Regions from separate parts of the Homo sapiens genome. Here region 2 is linked to region 1. A link means that fine-mapping ties the variant in region 1 to the expression of a gene that starts in the linked region. Tissue or cell type: sun-exposed skin. Region 1 holds a variant in brackets; the other region holds the start of a gene. All regions are shown on one strand. Distances are between the middles of the regions.

Region 1 (5,372 bases):
CTCCCTAGTTGCCAAGAGTGGTTGGTTCTGAGTCGAGGTGGCTTTGATTTGTCAGCTTTGGTCAGAGAATTCAGGCAGGGGGCAGGAAGTCCGTGTTCTGTAGTTGTTTTGTTATTTTACCCTTTTTATACCTTCCATTCAGGAGAAGTTTATTAGATGAATCCGTGTCCAGAAATAGAGAATTAGTTGCCTTCATCCTTTATATTAATTTCCCTTGAAGTATAAACAGCCAAAGAAGAAAAGTACTTGTGGGAGAAAGGGGGTTCAGATCCTCAAATTTGAAAATAGTTTTCAACTTCAGGAACGTGAAAGGTGACTGTTAACCAAAGTCTGAGTCTCAGGAGCTACTTCATGTGGTATGCTTTTACCTGATGTTATGTTTTAGATATGGCTCATTCATTCGGCACATGTGCTGGGTGCCTACTGTTTGCTGGACACTGCGGAGCCTGGTGGATGCTGGGGGAAGCAGATGGGTCTGGTCCTGGCCTCCAGGAGCTTACTAGTTAAATGTGGGAGTCATTGCTAATCATTTACGTAAGTCATTGTTTAATTTTAGTTGTGGTAAGTTTACAAAGAAAAGAAATGGGCTGCTAGGAGAGCTCACTCTCTACCCTTTTCTCTTCCTTTGTAGACTGTGTGAGGAGCTCTCATTGCGGGTGGGAGACTGATTGCCTGCAGTAATGGGGAGAGGATATGCCTGGTTCCCTCCTCTCACTCCTTGCTTGGACTTTTGTCTTTACAACTTGAACTAAGTATTCTCCATTTGACCTTTTTCCTGCCTCATTATTCTTCCCAGACATTCTCTAGCTTCTACTTTCTGCCTCTTCAGGTGTGCATCAGGGATCTGGTATCAAGGAATTTAGAACTTGAAAAGAAGTGTTATGGTCCAGTTCCCTCACTTTCAGATATGGAAGAAGGGAACACATCCACGGTCACACAGCAGGTTAGAGGCAGAACCAGGACCAAGCCTAGGTCTCTGCATCTCAGCCCAGGGCTTCTTGTTACATTCCTGCAGGAAGGGCTTTCTAAGTCAGCAGGGGCCCAGCGTCAGGGACCTACTTACCCTTGCAGAGACACTGAGAGGACAAAAACTAAGCCCCAAGGGGGCCAACAGCCCCAGACTTCACATGGCCTAGGGTTGTTTTCTATATATCTTGGCAGATTTATCAAGAGTACCTTTTTCCGGGAGCTGAGGAAAGAAAAAAAATATGCCCCATTCCTATCATTAGGGGATTCATATTCTAGAGGAACATAGAAGTCTCACATGTATGGAGAGAGCATAGAGCAGCTTGCTAGGGGCTCAGGTACACACCCTGTGTGAGGGAGAGCTCTGGAGCAGGAGGAGATGCGGAGTCGTCTCCTGGATGCAGAGCAAGGATTTTCCTAGAGAGGTGGAGTCCAGATAGTCCAAGGAGCAGAGGAGTGGAGGCCAGGCTTTGCTAGGGCTAGGAGAAGAGAGAGACCCCCTCCAGGCTTGCGGGGAATCCTGAAAAAATGGTCCACACAGACAAAGAGGGTTAGGAGGTTGTGAGGCAGGGGCTGATTTTGTAAGACCTTGAACTCTGCTCTGAAGGACCAGATCATGGAGCTAGTGGGGTGCCGTGCCTCACTTTCTCAAGGGAGTGGTTTCATGAAAGCTGGGCTTTTGGGAGAGAAGTCTGGTGGCATTTTAGGAGCCCTAGGGGTCAGGAGGCCTAACCAGGGACTTACTGCAGTGACTCAGTTATGGAATGAGGAGGCCCTGGTCACAGGGAGTAGCAGTGGGGTATTTTGAGCTTCTATAGTGCTTGTTTGCAAAACATGATAAATTTAGGTTAATCTCCAAGCTTTAACATAGGAAGTATAACTTCAGTGTTTTTTTTCTTGCCATATCTAGGTGGAGTCCGCAAAGAAATTGTGAGGCTCAGGTGTCTGTTTTATTTTATAAAGCATTTTGAAACTTTTGAGAACCAACAAAAAGAGAATGCAAATACCAAGTGTTATTTCTTTCTACTTCCAAATCTCAAGCCCTAAATTGAATACCATTTAATTCACTGTTGCCAATATGGCACTCTGCGTTCCTTTTTTGATAGAAAGTTTTGCCTTTTGAGCATTTGAAGCCCTAGCTTTGTGATATAGCTGAACAGGGTGGGCAGGCTGGTGGGGACAAGGAAGAACACGAGGACGAGAGTAGCTGCCC[G/A]GCTCCAGCAGCACCCATGCCCTCGGCACGCACAGACTTAACGGTATTGTCTTCTCTTTATCTCCTTAGGAATACAAACAGAAGCTTGCACGAGTAACCCAGGTCCGCAAGGAACTGAAATCCCATATTCAGAGCTTGCCAGACCTCTCACTGCTGCCCAACGTCACAGGGGGCTTAGCCCCCCTGCCCTCTGCTGGGGACCTGTTTTCAACTGACTAGGATGGGTGTCATGTCCCAGATTTCTGTTTGTACCAGCAGAAAGAAGAGGGCAAGTCATGGTTGGAAATAACCTTCTAGCCCCTGGTTCTATCCCTTCTTCCGCCCAGCCCCCCAGCCTCAAGAAAGAACCTCAGACTCTGATTCTCCTCTTCAGCCTCTCATCTTGAGCACAGTTCAGAACAGTGGCGACTGGAATCTGGTTTATATTCATATTTGCAAAGACTACAGACTTTTTCTCCCACTTCATATTTTCATGCCCCCCTGTTGGTTTTCCATTCTTAACTGTCTCCTTATACCTAAGAAGTTATGAAAATCATGTGTACTTCTGGAAGCTTTCGAAAGAATCTTGTCCCTCATGACAGCATTTTATCATGAAAGCAGCTTCTCCTTTCTGGGCTGGGCTTGTTCAAGTTCGGTGTGGGCTTCCACTAAGGCACTTGTCCTGGAGACGTTGGCTTTCCCAGCTGCATCTGCCCCAAAAGGTTGTAGGCACAGCTGTCGTAGCGTTGCCATAAAGAGTTTGCCAAATCTCTGATCCTCCCTTTCCATTGCTTCTCCTAGTGATGCACGAAGATTAGGTGCATTTATTTTGTAAACAGATTGGAGAATCTAGCAATAAGATTCAAAGCTAATCTGGAGCATAAAGGCACAGTTCAGAGACAGAATAACAGGGATCACAAGCATGAATTAAAAGGAATTTATTTGCTTCAAGTTCCTAGATACAACCTTCCCATGCTGCACTTCTCCACTGTCGGAGCACGTTCCGAAAAACAGAATGCCTTGATCCCTGGTGGGTGCGAAGGCAGTTGTTAGGGATGGCAGGCATTGGTGGGCTCCAAAAGATGAAGGCCCCACACACAGGTGTGCTGCATTTGGGATCTGTGTGGGTGTTTCTTGGACCCTTTCTTCTGGGAGTAGGGTACACACTAACGTTTAATCCGCTGTCTGGGTGCATGTCCACAGTACGGTGGCTAAACTCGAACATCACTGCAAATAGGACGCTGAGCAGGTCCGTCTGTCATGTCACGCCACTGCACAGGTCCTTGTCCCCACACGACGGGGAGTACTTGCGTCAGATGTTATTGAATAGCTCGTCTCGGGCAGGGGAAGCGGGGAGTTGGGGATATTAATTGGGGGTTTTAATTCTATTATCATGTCAGCTGACATTATGACTATATAATGTAGTTAGAGACAATTTTTATCTTGCTTATAGTAAAGGTTCAGCCTGCCAATTGTAAATCATTCTAATTTGGCAGGCTTATTTTTGACATTGGAAAGGGCAGAAAGCGATTTGCCCCAGTAGTGTAATAGGAGTTATAGACCAGAGGCTGAAACCCAAACTATATAAAAAGGAATTCAGTGGAGGGGGCTTTGTAATCTCCATTAATTTGTGTTGCTACTTCCAGGATCACCAAAAATTACATGTAATTTTACATGTTAAACACATTGAAACATAACCTATGTTTATAAAGCATAACGGGCTTCCCTTCCAGAAGCTCTCCTGCTTGTCATGAAGTGAGAACAATGAAAAGTCATAGCAGATACTCAGTTTAACTCTGTGTAGAACCTAGTAGTGTTTGAGCTGTTATTCAGATTTGAATTCAGACTGTGTGTTGTTTGCTTATGGACACTGCCTGTCGTTCTGTCACTGTTAAATTAATGAGTCTATAAGGTTTTTCTTCCAGAGGCCATAGGTGACATCACTAAAATTGCAAGATAAATTGTAATCTTTGCTGCTGCTGCACTCCCCAACCTCTCCCCCACCCCCCGTGGTGTGCTGCTTTCTAGATGAGCGTGTTTTGGAGCAGGCCCATCTGGGACACTCTATGCTTTCACCAAGGAAGTGCGATCTGAGCAGCCACAATCCAGCCAAAAGAGGATCGTAGATATTTGCTCTGATCAACTAGATGAAAATATAGCAGAATGGATTTAGCCCACTGCTCTGTTTTATCCAACTGAGTCTCTGACCAGCAATTGGTGCATAATTATTACAGCAAAAGTTAAGAAATGAAACTGTAGCAATTATGTAAATGAATGTGTTGGCCTCTTAATACCTGTTACTAGTGGACTTCCTGTGAGGAAGTTAGTTTTTTGTTTTGATGAAATGCTTTCGTTTTTTAAATCTTAATTCTGCTGTCCACATCCTCCCAAAGTGTGCTTACTTCATTTGTTTAATTTAAATGAACTTTCCTCCTTGTATGTATGAGGTGACTTGGTGGGTGGGGTGGGTGGTTTTTGTTTTTGTGTTTTTTCTTTCTTAGGGCATCTGTAGGCCTCAAAGGACCTTTCCTTTAGGTCATATTCCTCAGAAAGTCTTCAATCTTCCCTTGTTTTTGTTTGTTTGTTTTTCTTAAAGAATATTTTCAAAGCTTAAATTTGTATATTAATTTAGGACTATTTAGAAGTATAGGCTGTCGTTGGCGGCAGCAGTATATTCTGAAATGTCTCATAGATATATATTTTTGAATAAAGATGGTGTTGTTGAACAACATTGTGTGATTTTTTTTTTAAACTACCCTGTTACTGAAAACAGTGCCTTTCTTTGTAAGCAGTGGGTGATTAGTAATCACCAATAGAGAATGTGCTGTCGGCACAGAATCTTGTCCCTTGGGAGTTTTTGTGTCTGTTAGCGGCACATAAATACTCAGCATTTACGTAGTATTTTCTGGTTCTTTCCAGGGGCTTAATTAGCTTTAATTAGGCAGTCCACACAGTACCCATGAGAGGTGCCGCCATAGTTTTACCCTCATTGTACAGAAGTGGGAACTGATGGAGAGAGATTAAATGACTCTTCCCCCATACTTCACAGCCAATCTCTGACAGATTAAAACTTGGAAGTTCTTTGATTTTAGCGCCTTTGTTCACACCAGTAGGCCTCCTGAGAGCGATTTGATTTTGGCAGTACACGGAAAGCCACGCTGAACAGTAAAAAGACGAAAAATGTGAGATAATTGCGAACCCAAGTGGTATGTCT
Region 2 (5,372 bases), 56 kb before region 1:
GAGGCCTTCTCTGAGAAGCATAAGTAAAAGACTACCCACCTACACATATACATTCCTTATCCTCCTTATCTCCTTGATTTTTATTGAAGTTACTTACCACTTTCTGACTTATTCTAAACTTGCATGTTTGTTTTTCTATCTTTCTCAGTAGAAAGTAAGTTCCTGAGAACGTGGATTTTGTCTGTTAGCTTAGAAGAGTGCTTTGGACATAGGTGCTGAAAAATTATTTTCCGAATGAATGAATAAACTATTGGTTCAGGAGGCAAGAATTTGGGATCAGACATAAGATAACCCTAATTTGACTCCTGGCTCTGCTATTTCCTAACTATGTCCAAGTACATAGGGTACTTAACCATGCTTTACATTTTCTCGTCTATCAAATAGTGATTGTAATAATTTCAACTCCTAAGACTGATGTAAGAATTAAATTTAAAAAGTATGTAATGTGCTTAATAGACAGTGACTTGGTATAAAAGTGCTCAGTATATGACAGTGTTATTAATATGGAAAGATGATCTAGATTTCGACACAAAAGCCCTCAGTTATGACTAGATACTCACTGTATGATTTTAGGTTACTCACCTCTTTTACACTAACTCACTTGATAAATCAGGAACTGGGGCCAAAAAGATGGCTAAGTTGCAGCCCCTTCCCTCAAGTCTTAGTAATGTGATCTTGGGTAGGTCACTTAACCTCTCTGAGCCTGTTTCCTACGCTGTCCAAAGGGGGATAATATAATACCTCACAGCTTTGTTGTGAGGATTAAATGAGTTACTGTGTGGGAATTGTGTCTAGCACATAGTAACCTCTCACTGCGTTAGCTATGATTATGATTCCAGTCTGGAGGAAGGGTAAAAGCATGTAAGCAAAGAACTGCAATACAGTGCAATAAGAGCAAAAGCAGGCATCAACTAGAAGAACGTCTCCTAAACTAGAGTCTGCCCACAACTAGGAAGTTATACCACGATCAGGAAATTTTAAAACCCTCTTATGTCTATAACTTAACTCCCTACCATCACCCCCGTGGCAGTAAGAAAAACAAAATTTCTCTGCTGCTTTGATACCTGGGATTTAAAACTTAAAAAAAAAATAGGGTCAAGGTTTAGAGTCTCAGATAGTGTTTTGTTTTGTTTCAGAGAAGAGTCTCGCTCCATCGCCCAGGCTGGAGTGCAGTGGCACGATCATAGCTCACTGTAACCTCTAACTCCTGGGCTCAAGGTATCCTCTCGCGTAGCTGGAACTGCAGGTGAGCGTCACCATGCCTGGCTAATTTTCGCTGTTACCCAGGCTGGTCTTGAACTCCAGTCCTCAAGCTATCCTCTCGCCTCGGCCTCCCAAAGGGTTGGGATTACAAGCAAGAGACGTTGCGCCAGGCCTCAAATAGTGTGTCTCAACATGAGGTCAACAGACACATTGGGAAGGCTAAGTTAGTTCCCTCCACCTTTTCCCTAAAGTTAACACCTCACTTAAGTTCGAAAAAGTCAACTGGACCCGCAGACGGCAAAAGCAGCACGTAATAATACCCTGAGTGAGAACCCACTTAAGAGCCGAGAGCCCAAATGTGTGTTTCATGACGGCGCTGTTACAGACTAAAAGGTCAAAACAGGACATTAAAGGGTGCTCCGGGGGGCTGAGTAGGAGCTCACCAGGTGAGAAAGGGGATGTCACTTTCGGACAGAGAACGAGCGCCAGGGCGTGGAGGCGTGAAAAGGGCACGTGGGTGGCTTGGAAGAACCAAAACTAAGTGTTTTGGGGGACAGCCAGAGAGCCGAACACATATGGAGGAAAGATGCGGCCTGGGGCCCGCCAGATTAGAAAGGAAATCCCCCTCCCATATCCAGATCATGATCTCTCAGACTCAATGTCCCCTCAGGATACCCCTCTACAGGGTCCCAGCTGCTGGGCTCCCTCTGGTTCCCGCCACTCTTCCCTTACCTCGTCTTCCAGCCTTTCTCTCACTCTCCCGCCTCCTCTGCCTCGCCGGAAGTGACGCGCTAAGTAGCGCGCCGTATCGCGCCAGAAAGGTTCCGAGGGAGCGGGAAAAAGGGTTCCGGCGAGATCCACTGCGCCGGTGTGCAGGCTCGAGCGGTCAAAGCTCTTTCCGGGGGCCCGGGGAACTACTCTCCTTGCCTCGCTCTGTCTCCTTCGAAGTGCTCTGCGCGAGGTTCAGAGCGGCCGCCGCCTCCAAAGGGACGGTTTTCTAGAGCTCCGACGCCTCTCGGTGCCCCTCTGCTCCGGCCCTTGCCCTTTGACCTCGCTCTCGCGGCAGGGTGAGAGGTCGGGTGGCCATCTTGTGGCGGCGGCGCGGGCGGCTGTTACTGCGGAGACCCATCCCCTCCCCCTTCTCGCACCCCTGGCAGTCTGTCAGTCGGTAAAAAGTCCCGCAGCCTGTCAGGTGAGGCCCCGGCCTCGTGCCGTCGCTCTTCCCGCCGCACTGGGCGGCCCAGGCCGCTCCCTGCCGGGCCTCACTGCCGCCACCATGTCCTCCTTCTCTGAGTCGGCGCTGGAGAAGAAGCTCTCGGAGCTGAGCAACTCTCAGCAGAGCGTGCAGACCCTGTCCCTTTGGCTCATCCACCACCGCAAGCACGCGGGACCCATCGTCTCCGTGTGGCACCGCGAGCTCCGCAAAGGTAAACACCAAATCCCCACCCCCTGGACGGTCCCCGGATTGTCCTCTCGCCCACATACAACCTAGGCCCCTCTAAGCCTCTTCATTGAGCCTTGCTTTCCAGGCCTGATCGAGCTTCTGAGATGGGAGACAAAGTTAGCCCCATTTCTCGAAGAAGGAAACTGAGGCCCGGGAAGGTTTAAGGTACTTGCCTGAGGGTCCACGGACTGGGACTCAGGTGTCCAGACTTCTAGTTCATCAAGCCATTTTCCCTTCAGTTTCCCCCTGACATTTGTGGCTGTTATTATCTCGGCTGCATTCACTGCCGTACTGGCCCTAGCATGTCGGGCCCAGTGCTGGGTATTTGGAGTAAAAGCCAGTGGGCTCCGGAGTCAGACTCTGCAGATCGAGTCCTGGCTCAGCTATTTGCCAGCTGAATAATACTGGGAGAGTTTCTTCATCTCCCTGTGTCTCCGTTTTCTCATCTGTAAGAGGGAGGCAAGGATAGCTACCCCTTACAAAGCCTTTACTTCATACCAGTCACTATACTAAGACCTTTGTGTGTATCCTCGCACTCAGTCCTTAGAACAGCCCTGTGAAGTAGGTAGTCTCTCCCATCTTAGGTTAAGGGGCCACCCAGACCTTACCTCTCCTCTCCTCTCCTCTCTCATGCAGTTGTCATTGATTTCAGGCCCTGCTCAGGTTCTGACAGACAATTCATTGAACTCATTCTGTTATGTGCCAGGCACTGGCTTGGACACTTGCAGCATGTTGCCTCTGCCAACTGCCTAGAATTTAAGCCTGACTTTGCCGCCTTACTGACCCCAGCAACTTAACCTGTCTGTGCCTTAATTTTCTTATCTACAGAATGGATAACTGAAATTTACTATGTCTTTATTACATGCGAAGTGCAGTACTGATATCTTTACATACATTGCCATTAAAAAAAATTCTCGGAGCCCTATGAAGTAGGAACTTTGCAGAAGAGGAAAAACTGAGACTCATCTCGTGGTGAGGAGTAAACGGGATAATCCAAATGAACATTTAGCATGGGGTGAGGCACAGTGTAGGCATTCAGCAGATTATGGTGAGATGAGACTTTTGATTACTCACTGTGAGGCATGGTCTTTACCTTCAAGTTGCTTACAGTCTGGTGGGGAAAGATGGACACCTACACTCCCGGATGAGTTTCATAATGGAAGACTGAAGAAATGAAGCTCAGAGCTGCTCCAGACACCCTATATGTGGTAGGCCTTTATAGCGAAGTGGCTTTACAAGTGTTCTATACTATCTGTGAGTTGGGGACACCACAGATGTCCTGCTCTACAGGTGAGGAAACTGAAGTGGCTAAGTGGTATTTTCAAGGCTTTCGAACTGAACAGGCTCAGACTACAACAGGCTGGCAAACACCAAAATCTTCATGATTTTTTTCAGGAGACCCAGTTCTAGCCCTTTAGCAGGGACTGCCCCCAAATATCGCGTACTGTACTGAGATAGGGATCCCCTCAGCCCTTCGGGCAGTTCCGGGAAGAGGTAGAGCCTGGAGTTTATGGGGCCTTCTTCATGTACCCCACTGTGCCATTCAGAAATTATTTGAAGAGTGTGCTGAAATGTGAATTGCCACTGTACAGAATTCTATTGGGTGGGACCTCAAGAGGCAGTTAAAGTCCATCTCAGGTGTCATTTTTTTTGTTTTTTTTTTTTTGAGATGGGGGTCTCGCTCTGTCACCCAGGCTGAAGTGCAGTGGTGCGATCTCAGCTCACTGCAAGCTCCACCTCCCGGGTTCATGCCATTCTCCTGCCTCAGCCTCCCGAGTAGCTGGAACTACAGGGGCCCGCCACCACACCCAGCTAATTTTTTGTATTTTTAGTAGAGATGGGGTTTCACTGTGTTAGCCAGGATGGTCTTGATCTCCTGACCTTGTGATGCCCCCGCCTCGGCCTCCCAAAGTGCTGGTATTACAGGTGTGAGCCACCACGCCTGGCCAAGTGTCACTTCTTTTGTGACACTTTCTTGATTCCTTGCCTCACCCTAGTTGAGTTACTGAAAAAAAGCAAATTAGAGAGTACATTTGTGTATGAAGCTCCGTTATCCCTAATCTTACGTGGTAAAGCCTTATGTTGCAAGTAGGCTAGCATTATTATCCTCATTTTATAGATGAGATGATAAAGGTATAGAGGGATTAAGTGCCTTGTCCACAGACATACAGCTAGGACATGAGCCCAGGGCTGCCTGATGCCAAAATGTGTTCTTTTTCATGTACTCAGTGCCTCAATGCATTTAATAAGTGAAGGTGGTCACCTGACTGCAATCAAACTGTGGTGCTTTCATTTATTAGAATTAATGAGTGCCTCCCACCCCATCATACCAGTTTAGCATTTAATTTGTTCCTACTAGCTGTTCATTTGAACTGGTTACATCTTTGTCATTAGATTATGTTTTGAGAGAGGAACTAGACCTTCTTGTTTATTTGCAACACCACAGGATATCGCGTGGTGCCTGTTATATAGTTTAAAAATAGGAATTAAATCATGGTCTCTGATAGAATTTTCGTGGTTGAGTAAAGGATCTAAACAGCGCTATCCAATACAACTTTCTATGATAGCAGCATAAAGGATATAAACAGCGCTATCTAATACAATTTTCTGTGATAATAGCAATGTTTTCTATCTGTGCCATCCAACAGGTAGCCGCTTGGTATATGTGGCTATGGAGCACTTAAAATGTGTGACTAAGGAACTAAAGTTTTAAGTAGATAGAATT

Direction of the effects. Positions count from the first base shown, and alleles are read on the strand shown. Sizes are in standard deviations (SD) of each study's normalised expression.
As copies of A replace G in region 1, the expression in sun-exposed skin of the gene that starts at base 2,278 in region 2 goes up (moderate effect, 0.45 SD a copy in GTEx).

Evidence for each region. PIP is the estimated chance that this variant, and not a neighbour inherited with it, causes the effect.
Region 2: it holds the start of RPRD1B, and the variant in region 1 is fine-mapped to the expression of RPRD1B in sun-exposed skin (GTEx, PIP 0.97).

What each region holds. Positions count from the first base shown.
Region 1 is chr20:38,087,478-38,092,849 of GRCh38, forward strand. It overlaps RPRD1B (regulation of nuclear pre-mRNA domain containing 1B), which reads left to right. Exons shown (of 7, transcript NM_021215.4): 7 at 2,249-4,887. The coding sequence ends at 2,398. LOC124904897 (a long non-coding RNA gene) reads left to right here. Exons shown (of 4, transcript XR_007067578.1): 3 at 386-534; 4 at 632-943. Among named protein-coding and RNA genes, the nearest start is that of RPRD1B, 56 kb to the left of the region's middle. The variant G/A (reference allele first, on the strand shown) is at 2,180.
Region 2 is chr20:38,031,469-38,036,840 of GRCh38, forward strand. It overlaps RPRD1B (regulation of nuclear pre-mRNA domain containing 1B), which reads left to right and starts at 2,278. Exons shown (of 7, transcript NM_021215.4): 1 at 2,278-2,630. The coding sequence starts at 2,480. TTI1 (TELO2 interacting protein 1) reads right to left here and starts at 1,988. Exons shown (of 8, transcript NM_001303457.2): 1 at 1,936-1,988. It overlaps LOC124904898 (a long non-coding RNA gene), which reads left to right and starts at 2,638. Exons shown (of 2, transcript XR_007067579.1): 1 at 2,638-3,937. RefSeq lists enhancers at 1,719-2,314, 1,845-2,114, 2,315-2,910.